Homo sapiens: one gene and its partners. The protein of the gene in region 2 interacts with the protein of the main gene of each other region in a biochemical or structural test. Each region holds a gene or a part of one and is shown on either strand. Other genes may lie near its edges. The genes, in order: TRIM31, NLRP3 and TRIM50.

Region 1 (3,652 bases), on a different chromosome or scaffold from region 2:
ATAAAATATTTTAACTCAATATATCTGAAATATTATCCTTTCAGCCTGTAATGAATATTTTAAAAGTATTAATGAGATATTTCACATTCTGGGTTTTTGGTGGTTTTTTTTTTTTTTTTTTTTACACTGAGTCTTTGAAATTGTGTGTATATTTTTCACTTTGGCACATCTCAATTCAGATGCTAAATTGTCAATTGTTAAAGTAAAATATAGTCTTACCAAATCAATAAAGTTGTGTTTAATGGAAAAAGTACTTTACCCTTCTTCTATTTATTTTATTTTATTTTTTGAGATGGAATCTTGCTCTGTTGCCCAGGCTGGAGTACAGTGGCGCGATTTTGGCGCACTACAACTTCCGCCTCCTAGGCCCAAGTCCCAAGTAGCTGGGATTACAGGTCCCCACCACCACGCCCAGCTAATTTTTGTATTCTTAGCAGACACGGGGTTTTACCATGTTGGCCAGGATGGTCTCGAACTCCTGACCTCAAGTGATCTGCCCACCTCAGCCTCCCAAAGTGCTGGGATTACAGGCGTGAACCACCGTGCCTGGCCTCTATTTTTAATTTAAATTTGAATTAGTAAAAATGAAATTAAAAATTCAGTTCTTTGTCACACTAGCCACAATTTCCAATGTTCAGTAGCCACATGTGGTTGGTGGCTACCATATTGGACAGTGCAAGTCTAGCTGGTGCTTAAAATAAGCTGAGATGATTCCTCCTCAAGTCATCTATTCTCCCACAGGTTCAAAAACCTATTTATTTATTTTAAGAAAGATCATGCAAAGCCATTCTAGCCTTTCTCCTGCCCTGGCTAGCAGGCTCCCTTGTTCAGTCTCAGAGCCAAATTCATCTTCTAAATCTCACTCTTCTCTTCTTCACTCAGTTCTTCTTGAGGTCAAAACACTTTTCTGCTTACTGGCAGAGCAGTGCTTCTTGGAGAAGCCCTTCGTGGTGGGGAGAGGGGAGGAGGATGGGGTAAGAGAGACTTGGAGGGGTTCTTACTCCTCCTGCTCTGCCCCACACCCAGCAGGCTCTGTATCTCCTCCTTGGCTCCTGGGAATCAGCCAAGTGCTGAGGCTGTGCTGTTTCTCTTTCTCTTCTAGGATATCAAAGTCGTCTTGTGCAGGTATGATGGGCCACCCCAAATGTATTTTGCCTACTGATTCATCCACACACAATTCTCAGCGTATATCCAAATGCAGTCAACATTCCTCTCTCAGAAATACCCACCCACCTCTAACTCTGCATTCATACATTTAGGCTGCAGCCGGGGAATGCCTATGCCAACCATATTAGCACGTGGTTGGTTGTTAAAGAAACCAGCTGTTTTCTCAGCCTTCCTCCTTCTTCAGCACAGATTCTACTATTTCCTGAATGCCCCCTTGCTCAACTGAATAGCTCCTGGGTCCCCTACTCTGTCTCCCTGACCCTGTTTTTTTCCCTCCTCTCTGTCTCCATCTCCCATCTTCATTTCCATATCTCCCTATGCCCTACCTCACTCCCGCCCCATATCCCTAGCCCTGACTTTCTGACTCCCAGCTCACTATCCCTTAACCGCCAGGTCTTCTTTTTTTTTTTTTTTTTTTTTTTTTGAGATGGAGCTTTGCTCTTGTTGCTCAGGCTGGAGTGCAGTGGTGCAATCTCAGCTCACTGCAACCTTTGTCTCCCAGGTTCAAGTGATTCTCCTGCCTCAGCCTCCCAAGTAGCTGAGACTACAGGCGCTTGCCACCAAGCCTGGCTAATTTTCATATTTTTAGTAGAGACCAGGTTTTACCATGTTGGCCAGGCTAGTCTTGAACTCCTGACCTCAGGTGATCCACCCGCCTCAGCCTCCCAAAGTGCTGGGATTACAGGTGTGAGCCACTGCTCTCAGTTCTACCCCCAGGTCTTCATCCCCTCATTTCTCAACCGCGTATCTCAGATCCTCCTTCTCCCACACCTCATCCCCTGATCTCACCAACCAGCTCAACCACATCTTCCTAGAAGTGAAGAGTTTCAGTTTCTCAACCCAACCCCTGTTCCTCTGGAACTGGAGAAAAAACTCAGTGAAGCAAAATCAAGACATGACTCCATCACAGGGAGCCTAAAAAAATTCAAAGGTAAGGAAGAGGCTGTATTTTCTCTATTCACCTACTTCCAGGAGATTCTCTCCCTGCTCACTCCACTGAAATGGAACTGTGACTCATACATGCCAACAATCCCTGGGCCCTTCTAGTGCCAGGCTTCTGGCTGAGTACTTTCCACGCATCAGTATGCCTCCTCCCAGGCATTTCTTATATTCTGTCTTTGTGATATGTTATTTATCTGCCTCCCTGACTCCTGCGAGAGCCATAGAGGGCCTGGACCTATTCCCCATGTGGACACCTGGCCTAGAGCAGTGGCTGTTGGGAAGTTGGTGATGAGTTGTCTGGTGGACCAGAGATGGCCTCAGGCAGGGACTGTCATCTCTGACTTCTCCTTCTCTGGTGCACACTGGTGTCTCCTCCTGCCTACAGAAGAAGAGAAAATAAATTCAAAATCAGTGACATTCTGGGGAGAAACCTCTTCCAGCCTTACAGGGAAACAGAAATCAGCAGAACAGTAGTGGATGACTTGGGTTTTAGATGTTCGCCAGATATTTTTCATAAACCTTTCTGTGTTTGCAACTAGGAAGAAGGGTTAGTATTTGTAAGGACTCCCCTTAATGTGAAGACTGTGTTGGTCTAAGGTGGGCATAAAGACAGCTAGATGGAATCTTCTGAAATTATCACCTGGAGTTCCACACCCACCTCCCCCACCCCAACCCCCAGCCCCCCATACACAAACACTTCCCCTTGGGACTACGGAAAAGGAGGACCAGGGCAATGCCCCAAGATCTCCACCCATTCAGCCGGGAATCTCCACTCGGCAGACATAAACAGGAAAGCATGTTTTGTTTTATTCTTAATTTTGTTGTCTGAGCTTTTCTTTTGTCCACTAACTGCTCTGCTTTGTCTAGCTCCTCCCACCCCACTGGGCATGATCTCAGCCGATCTAGCAACTTTATTTATTTGTTTATTTATTTATTTATTTTTGATGGAGTTTTGCTCTTATTGCCCAGGATAGAGTGCAGTGGCGCAATCTCGGCTCACTGCAACCTCCGCCTTCTGGTTTCAAGCGATTCTCCTGCCTCAGCTTCCCAAGTCGCTGGTGTTACAGGCGCACACCACCATGCCCAGCTAGTTTTTTGTATTTTTAGTAGAGACGGGGTTTCACCAGGTTGGTCAAGCTGGTCTCGAACTGCTGACTTGTGATCCACCCGCCTCAGCCTCCCAAAGTGCTGGGATTACAGGCGTGAGCCACCACGTCCAGCCCGATCCAGCACCTTTCTAGGCTCTTCAGGTCAAGAATAGTTTGGTTCTAGTTTGGAATTTCAATAAAGGAGCCCAGCCCTTTCCACTTCATCAGGTTTGGAGTTGGGGAGACTGGTGTGCTCTACTCTGTATCCCCCTTTTCTTTCCCTCTTTCACATACACAAACTCACACACACACAGTCCCCCAACTCCCACCTGGCCCTATTTCCTTCTTTTTTTTTTCTCTTATTTTTATTTTATTTTTACCCCAAAGAAGAAGGCACAATGGCCACCTGGCCCTATTAAAGCCTAGGAAATACAGGAGGTGGTAGGGAGTCTACT
Region 2 (3,652 bases):
TGAAATGTGGTGCCCAGACCTGATGATGCATGGTGGATGTTTTACCTCCTGTTGCAGAGAACTATGGTTTCACTGGTGGAATCTCTGATTTCCTTGTTTTTTTTGGCAGTTACATAAGCCTTTTGATTCATGTTGGAATTCTGCAGTAAACAGTAGTAGGGAATACCCACTAATAATCATGCACTTTCCCTGTACCACTTTCCTGTATCACTTTCCCTGTATCACCTGCTCTTTCATGTTCTTACATGGATTTTCTCAGTTGGCTTCAGAAAGATGCTATAGGGTAGGGTATCTGTGTCTCCAATTTAAAGAGGAGAAAATAAAATTCAGGGAGCCTCATAACTTTGTCCAAGGACACTCAGAGAGAAGGTAGTGGAACTCAGTGTAGACAAACGTCTGTGACCTCCCAAGCCACTGCCTTAATTCCCAGTGCATTGCCTTAGGAGATGTTGCTAATGGGCTCTCTACAGGGCTTCTTCATCTGGCTCTCAGCTTAAGGGTGGGACCTCCAATTTAGCTTTGCTAAACCTCATCTTACCTGTCTTTTGACCCATTGACTAGGCAGTTTTGAATCTTCATTCTGACAATAATATCTACAAATACAATAAGCAAATTGGATAGGTCTTCATTCATTCACATTATTAATATATATACCAGCCAGATCAGCATTCAAGACAAAATTTGGCAGGAAAGGTCTTCCCAGAGGAGTAATCCACTAATCCATAATTAACAACCAACCTCTGTTCACAAAGCTCTGATACTTCCTTGGACCTCTCCCATCAGCCAATCCTCAGATGTGACCATATCTCTTTCTATGAAGTCTTCCTGCAGTGCCTTCATTTCCTCGCCTTAGGGTATTACCCTTCCTTAGCAAATCGCCTTAGAATATTACTCTTCCTTGGCAATTTGACTTCTGCTTCTCTAAGTTTGTTCAACAGACATGATTTTGTCCCTTCATTTTGCAGGCCCTCTGGGGGCTCTGTGGTGGGCACTGACAGCAGCAGTGAGTAAAACAGACCAAAATCCTGTTTTCACAACCGTTCTTTTAGGGAAGTGATAACAGATAATAGACATGCTAAACAATATACCCTGTGTATAAGAGCTATAAGAAAAACTGGAGTGACGGCGAGGGGTGCTTCTCTGCTCACGTTTGGCGAGTGCCTCTCCGAGCGGGTGACATTGGAGCAGGTGCTCAGTGAAGCGTGGGATGGGCTGTGAAGGAGCCGGAAGAGCCCTCCAGGCAAAGCAGATGGAACCGAAGAGGCCCAGGCGTAGGCACTCAGGTGACTCTCAGTGATCCTGGTTCCAAATTCCACATGACAAACAAGCCAATTACAAATGTGCCTGATGCATCTGTAATATGCTCTATGTAGTTACTATTGTCAATACCTAACCTGGTAGAGCTGCTGTAATAAAGTATCACAAACAGAGCGGCCTAAACAACAAGAGTTTATTGCCTCTCAGTTCAGGAGGCCAAAGTCTGAGACTGAGGCATCAGCAGGCTGGGTCCTTATAGGTCGTACAGGTCCTTCCCAGTCCTTACTTTAGTTGACATCTGCTGCCTTTAATTCATTTCACTCTTCCTCTTTGGAAGCCTTCTTCGCTCTTATTTTTAGGTCACTACTTAGTCTTTCCTGCTAATGTTATAGCTTCCCCCTCCCTGGATCCTGCATTGGCTTCTCTTCCTGTGGTCTGGGGATTTCACGACTGGTTTAGTTGTGTTTTTTTTTTTTTTTTTTTTTTTGAGTTGGAGTCTTACTCTGTCACCCAGGCTAAAATGCAGTGGCGCAATCTTGGCTCACTGCAACCTCTGCCTCCCGGGTTCCAACAATTCTTCTGCCTCAGCCTTCTGAGTAGCAGGGACTACAGGTGTGCACTGCCATGCCTGGCTAATTTTTGTATTTTTAGTAGATACGGGGTTTCACCATGTTTGCCAGGCTGGTCTCGAATTTCTGACCTCAGGTGATCTGCCTGCCTTGGCCTCCCAAAGTGTTGGGATTACAGGCGTGAGCCACACACCCGCCTGGTTTACCTTTTTTGTTGTTGTTGTTACTAAATATTTCTAAACTCCCTGAGAATTCTCATATACCTCTCAATTTCAACAACAGTAGGTCTCAAACCCAGATATCATTCACAAACTTTTTATTAGAAAAGTAACACATGCTTGGTGTAAACATATCATAGTACAGACAAAGTGGAAAGTGAAAGCTCCTTCTCAGCCCTCTTCTGAGAGAGCCATTTACAATAGTCTGATGAACAACCATCCAGACTTTTTTTAATACAATAGATTGTTATATAATCCATTCATCTGTCCATCCATCCATCCATCCATCATCCATCCCTCTATTTTCCATCCGTCAATCCATCCATCCATCCATCCATCCATCCATCCATCCATCCATCAATCCATCCAAGGGAGTATCAGAGCTTTGTGAACATATATTGGTTGCTAATTATGGACAAATGGATTTCCTGTATATGCTGATCTGGGTGGTATTTATATCAGTAATGTGAATGAAGACCTATGTGATTTTCATGTTGCATTTGTAATACATTGTTATGTAGTATTTTAAATGCCTAGTCTGTTAGAGCTACTGTAATAAAGTATCACAAACAGAGCAGCTTAAACAACAGAAATTTATTGTCCCTCAGTTCTGGAGGCCAGAAGTGTGAGATTAAGATGCTAGCAGGCTGGGTCCTTCTGAGGGCTGTGGGGAATCTGTTCATGCTTCTCTTTGGCTTCTGGTGGAATGTCATCTTGCTGACACATTTTGCCATTCCTTGACCTGTAGATGCCTCTGCCACACCATTGCCTTTATCTCTACGTGGTGTCTTCCCTGTGTCTGTGTGTGTCTTTCTCCATGTCCCAAGTTTCCCTGTGAAAGAACACAAGTCATGTTAGATTTGTAACGACCTGATCTTAACTAATTACATTTTCAGTAACCGTATCACCAAATAAGGTCACAATCTGAAGTACTGGGGCCTAGGACTTCCACATATAAAGTCTTAGAGGAAACAATTCAATCCATAACACCCTATCTATTGAAACTAGAACCATAATATAAATATTTTTCTGTGATATCCTTTTTTCATTTATCATGGATAAATTTCCATGCTGATTTGTGTAGATCTATCGATTGGGGCATAATATCCCATAGTGTGCTTTACCATAATTTATTTAATCAAATCATGCATTTTGGGATAACTGTTCTTTTCCACTATTACAAACAACTCTGCAAAAAGCACATTTGTATATATAGTTTTATGCATGTGTATTTGCTTTGAGATAGGTATCTATAAGTGGCATTAATCAGTCGAGACTTTTATGCATTTTATGTGTTAGGTACAGCCATACATGTGGCTGTGTGTTAGGTATAGCCTATGGGTTAGGCATAGCCTGTGTGTTAGGTATAGCCTATGGGTTAGGTATAGCCTACGTGTTAGGTATAGCCTATGTGTTAGGTATAGCCTATGTGTTAGGTATAGCTACATTTTTTTCTCTCGAACTTTGGGTCCTCATCTCTGGCTGCATATTGTGTACTGCCTGTCTCAATACTGCTCAAGGGTCACACATGCTGAGCATTTGCAACATTGGTTTAATTATCATACCCCACCTTCCACCCCCGTTCTCTGACCTGCTCCTGCCCTCTTC
Region 3 (3,176 bases), on a different chromosome or scaffold from region 2:
CTGTAATCCCAGCGCTTTGGCAGGCCAAGGTGGGAGGATTGCTTGAGGCCCAGACCAGCCTGGGTAACATAGCAAGATCCCGTCTCTACTAAAAATTTAAATATTAGCTGGGTATGGTGGCAGACACTTGTTGTCTCAGCTACTCAGGAGGCTGAGGCAGGAGGATCACTTGAGCCTGAGAGGTCAAGGCTGCAGTAAGCTACAATTGTGCCACTGCTCTCCAGCCTGGGTGACAGAGCAAGATCCTGTCTCTGAAACTAGACTCGAGGCTGGGCACGGTGGCTCACGCCTGTAATCCCAGCACTTTGGGAGGCTGAGACAAGTAAATAATTTGAGGTCAGGAGTTCAAGACCAGCCTGGCCAACACAGCGAAACCCCATCTCTACTAAAAATACAAAAATTAGCTGGGTATGGGGCACATGCCTATAATCCCAGCTACTCGGGAGGCTGAGGCAGGAGAATCACTTGAATCCGGGAGGTGTAGGTTTCAGTGAGCCTACATCGTGCCACTGCACTCCAGCCTAGGTGACAGAGAGAGACTCCATCTCAGGAAAAAAAAAAAAAAAAAAAGACTCGAGCATAAAGCAGTATGTATAGCAACTAATATGTGCAAATCATTTAAAGAGAAAGAAATAATGTCAAATTTATTATCCTTGATAGTAGTTGAAAGTTCACAGTAATATGGAAAAGGTATACATGGGACTATTTCTGCCCTCGGAAGCGTCTGCGCAGATAGCATGGTTAGCAAGTGGCAGGAACCATGGGGATTTCAGTGTGTCCCTGGCTGCCAAGGCCTGGGGGCCGAAGTTTACAAATACACCCTTGGCTGAGGGGAAAGGGACTGGGGTCCTGTTCCCTATCATTACATGTTCCAGGGACACACAGGCCTGAAGACCTTCCTAAACAGTGACGATATCACCTCAGGCGGGACCCAGCAGAAGCCCGCGAGTCCCCGGTGCCCCGCCGGGATGGGCCTGTGGGCCGGCAGGACTCCGGGCGGCCCTACAGCTTGGTGGGCTGCTCGGGGCTGAGGGGGCCAGGCCCGCTGGGCGGGGGCAGCACCATGGGCAGCGAGTTGCTGCCCCTCTCGTGCCAGCAGGTGTCCAGGATGGGGTAGAGCTTGCCCTGGAAGTCGGCCTGGAAGGTGTAGAGCGGCCGCAGGTCATCGGGGCGGTCGGCATCGAAGAAGGTGAGTTCGCCCTGCTCATAGTGCAGGTAGAGCCCGATGCGGTGGGGGTGGCCGGCCACGGGCAGGGGTACCCGGGGGCAGGCAAAGGCTTCGTACACCCGGCCCTCCTTCAGGCCGATCAGCCACACGCCGTGCTCGGGGGACCTGTTCAGCTTGCCCTTACGGCTGGCTGTGCCCTTGATGACCCCCAGGCGCCAGTCGCTCTTGCTGCCCACCACCACCTCCCAGTAGTGGCGGCCGCAGGAGAAGCCGCGGCTGGCCAGGACGCAGGTGCTGTAGTCGAAGCGCTCAGGCTGGCTGGCTCGCCGCTGGGCCAGAAGCCCGCACTGCACCACCGTGTTGCCCTTGGAGAGCTCCAGGAGTGGGTGGGCAGTGGCAGGGTCCAACTTGAGAGGCTCCGGGGCTGGGAGGGAGATCACAGAGGGTCTGTGAGGCCACGTGGAGGGCAGCAGACCCGGCCCACAGAAGCTGATGGAGGCCCTGAACTCCCCAAGGAGAGGGGCTGTGTCTTCCTCATCTCTCTAGCCCCAGGGTCTAGAAGGGGCCAGTACAGGGCTGCTCCCTGAATGAATGAATGAATGAATGAATGAATGAATGAATGAAGTTTTACATAAGGAAGATCAATCACAGACTGATTGCATCCACCCAAGGCAAAAACAGTGTTTATATAAAAGGGAGCAGCTTGGTGGGCTGTGGGGGGCTGAGGTGGCTGGAGAAAGAAATGGACACTGGGCTCGGGGTTCTGGCCTGCCTGCCTGACACAGAGGTGTTGTGGGAAGGACCCGGAAGACACCTGTCCTGTGAGCCTATAGCTCAGCCCTCAGGGATTTCTGGAGAACCCATAACAACTGCAGCTGTTGGATTTGCTAGCCTAGTCAGCCTATTCAAGGACGAACTAGCCCACCTGAGCTTTTTGCTAGTTACCAGCTGATCCGTTTACCCCAGAAATGTGAGATGTGCTCCCCCCTGCCCGCCTCCCACCCCTTCCCGCCACCCAAGTTGCCGCAAGGAAAGAAGGCCAAGGGGAAGAAGGTGGCTCCGGCCCCTGCTGGCGTGAAGAAGCAGGAGGCCAAGAAAGTGGTTTATCCCGTTTGAGAAAAGGCCTAAGACTTTTGGCACTGGACAGGACTTCCAGGCCAAAACGGACCTCGCCCACTTTGTGCAATGGTCCTGCTCGGTCAGGGTGCAGTGGCGGACAGCCATCCTCTATAAGTAGCAGAAACTGTCTCCTGCTATTAACCAGTTCACCCAGGCCCTGGACCGCCAAACAGCTATTCAGCTGCTTAAGCTGGCCCAGAAGTACAGACCAGGGGCAAAGCAAGAGAAGAAGCAGAGACTGTTGGCCCTGACTGAGAAGAAAGCTGCCAGCAAAGGGGATGTCCCCACTAAGAGGCCACCTGTCCTTGGAGCAGGAATTAACACCGTCACCACCTTGATGGAGAACAAGAACGCTCAGCTGGGCCAGGCACAGTGGCTCATGCCTGTCATCTCAGCACTTTGGGAGGCTGAGACAGGCAGATCACTTGAGGCCAGGAGTTTGCAAGCAGCCTGGCCAACATAATGAAAAACCCCGTCTCTACTAAAATACAAAAATTAGCCGGGCGTGGTGGCACACGCCTATAGTCCCAACTACTCAGGAGGCTGAGGCAGAAGAATCACTTGTACCCAGGAGCCAGAGGTTGCAGTGAGCTGAGATCACACCACTGCACTCCAGCCTGGGTGACAGAGACTCTGTCTCAAAAAAAAAAAAAAAAAAAGGAAGGCTCAGCTGGTGGTGACTCCACGCAACATGGGTCCCATCAAGCTGGCTGTCTTCCTGCCTGTGCCTGTGTGTAAAGTGGGGTCCCTGACTGCATCATCAAGGGGAAGGCAAGACTGGGATGTCTAGTCCCCAGGAAGACCTGCACCACTGTCGCCTTCACACAGGTTAACTTGGAAGACAAAGGAGCTTGGGCTAAGCTGGTGGAAGCTACCAGGACCAATTACA

What was found.
Region 1: the proteins of NLRP3 (region 2) and TRIM31 form a complex in vitro, tested with the Homo sapiens proteins (one study listed by BioGRID).
Region 3: the proteins of NLRP3 (region 2) and TRIM50 form a complex in vitro, tested with the Homo sapiens proteins (one study listed by BioGRID).

The regions. Positions count from the first base shown.
Region 1 is NC_000006.12:30,106,499-30,110,150, reverse strand, and holds part of TRIM31 (E3 ubiquitin-protein ligase TRIM31), read left to right. Parts: intron 1-1,102; coding exon 1,103-1,125; intron 1,126-1,963; coding exon of another isoform or gene 1,964-1,982; coding exon 1,983-2,098; intron 2,099-2,363; exon of another isoform or gene 2,364-2,488; intron 2,489-3,652.
Region 2 is NC_000001.11:247,436,658-247,440,309, forward strand, and holds part of NLRP3 (NACHT, LRR and PYD domains-containing protein 3), read left to right. Parts: intron 1-2,623; exon of another isoform or gene 2,624-2,876; intron 2,877-3,652. UniProt on the Homo sapiens protein: Sensor component of the NLRP3 inflammasome, which mediates inflammasome activation in response to defects in membrane integrity, leading to secretion of inflammatory cytokines IL1B and IL18 and pyroptosis.
Region 3 is NC_000007.14:73,311,919-73,315,094, forward strand, and holds the end of TRIM50 (E3 ubiquitin-protein ligase TRIM50), read right to left. Parts: intron 1,752-3,176; coding exon of another isoform or gene 1,711-1,751; exon of another isoform or gene 1,593-1,710; coding exon 1,003-1,592; 3' UTR 618-1,002; downstream 1-617. UniProt on the Homo sapiens protein: E3 ubiquitin-protein ligase that ubiquitinates Beclin-1/BECN1 in a 'Lys-63'-dependent manner enhancing its binding to ULK1. In turn, promotes starvation-induced autophagy activation.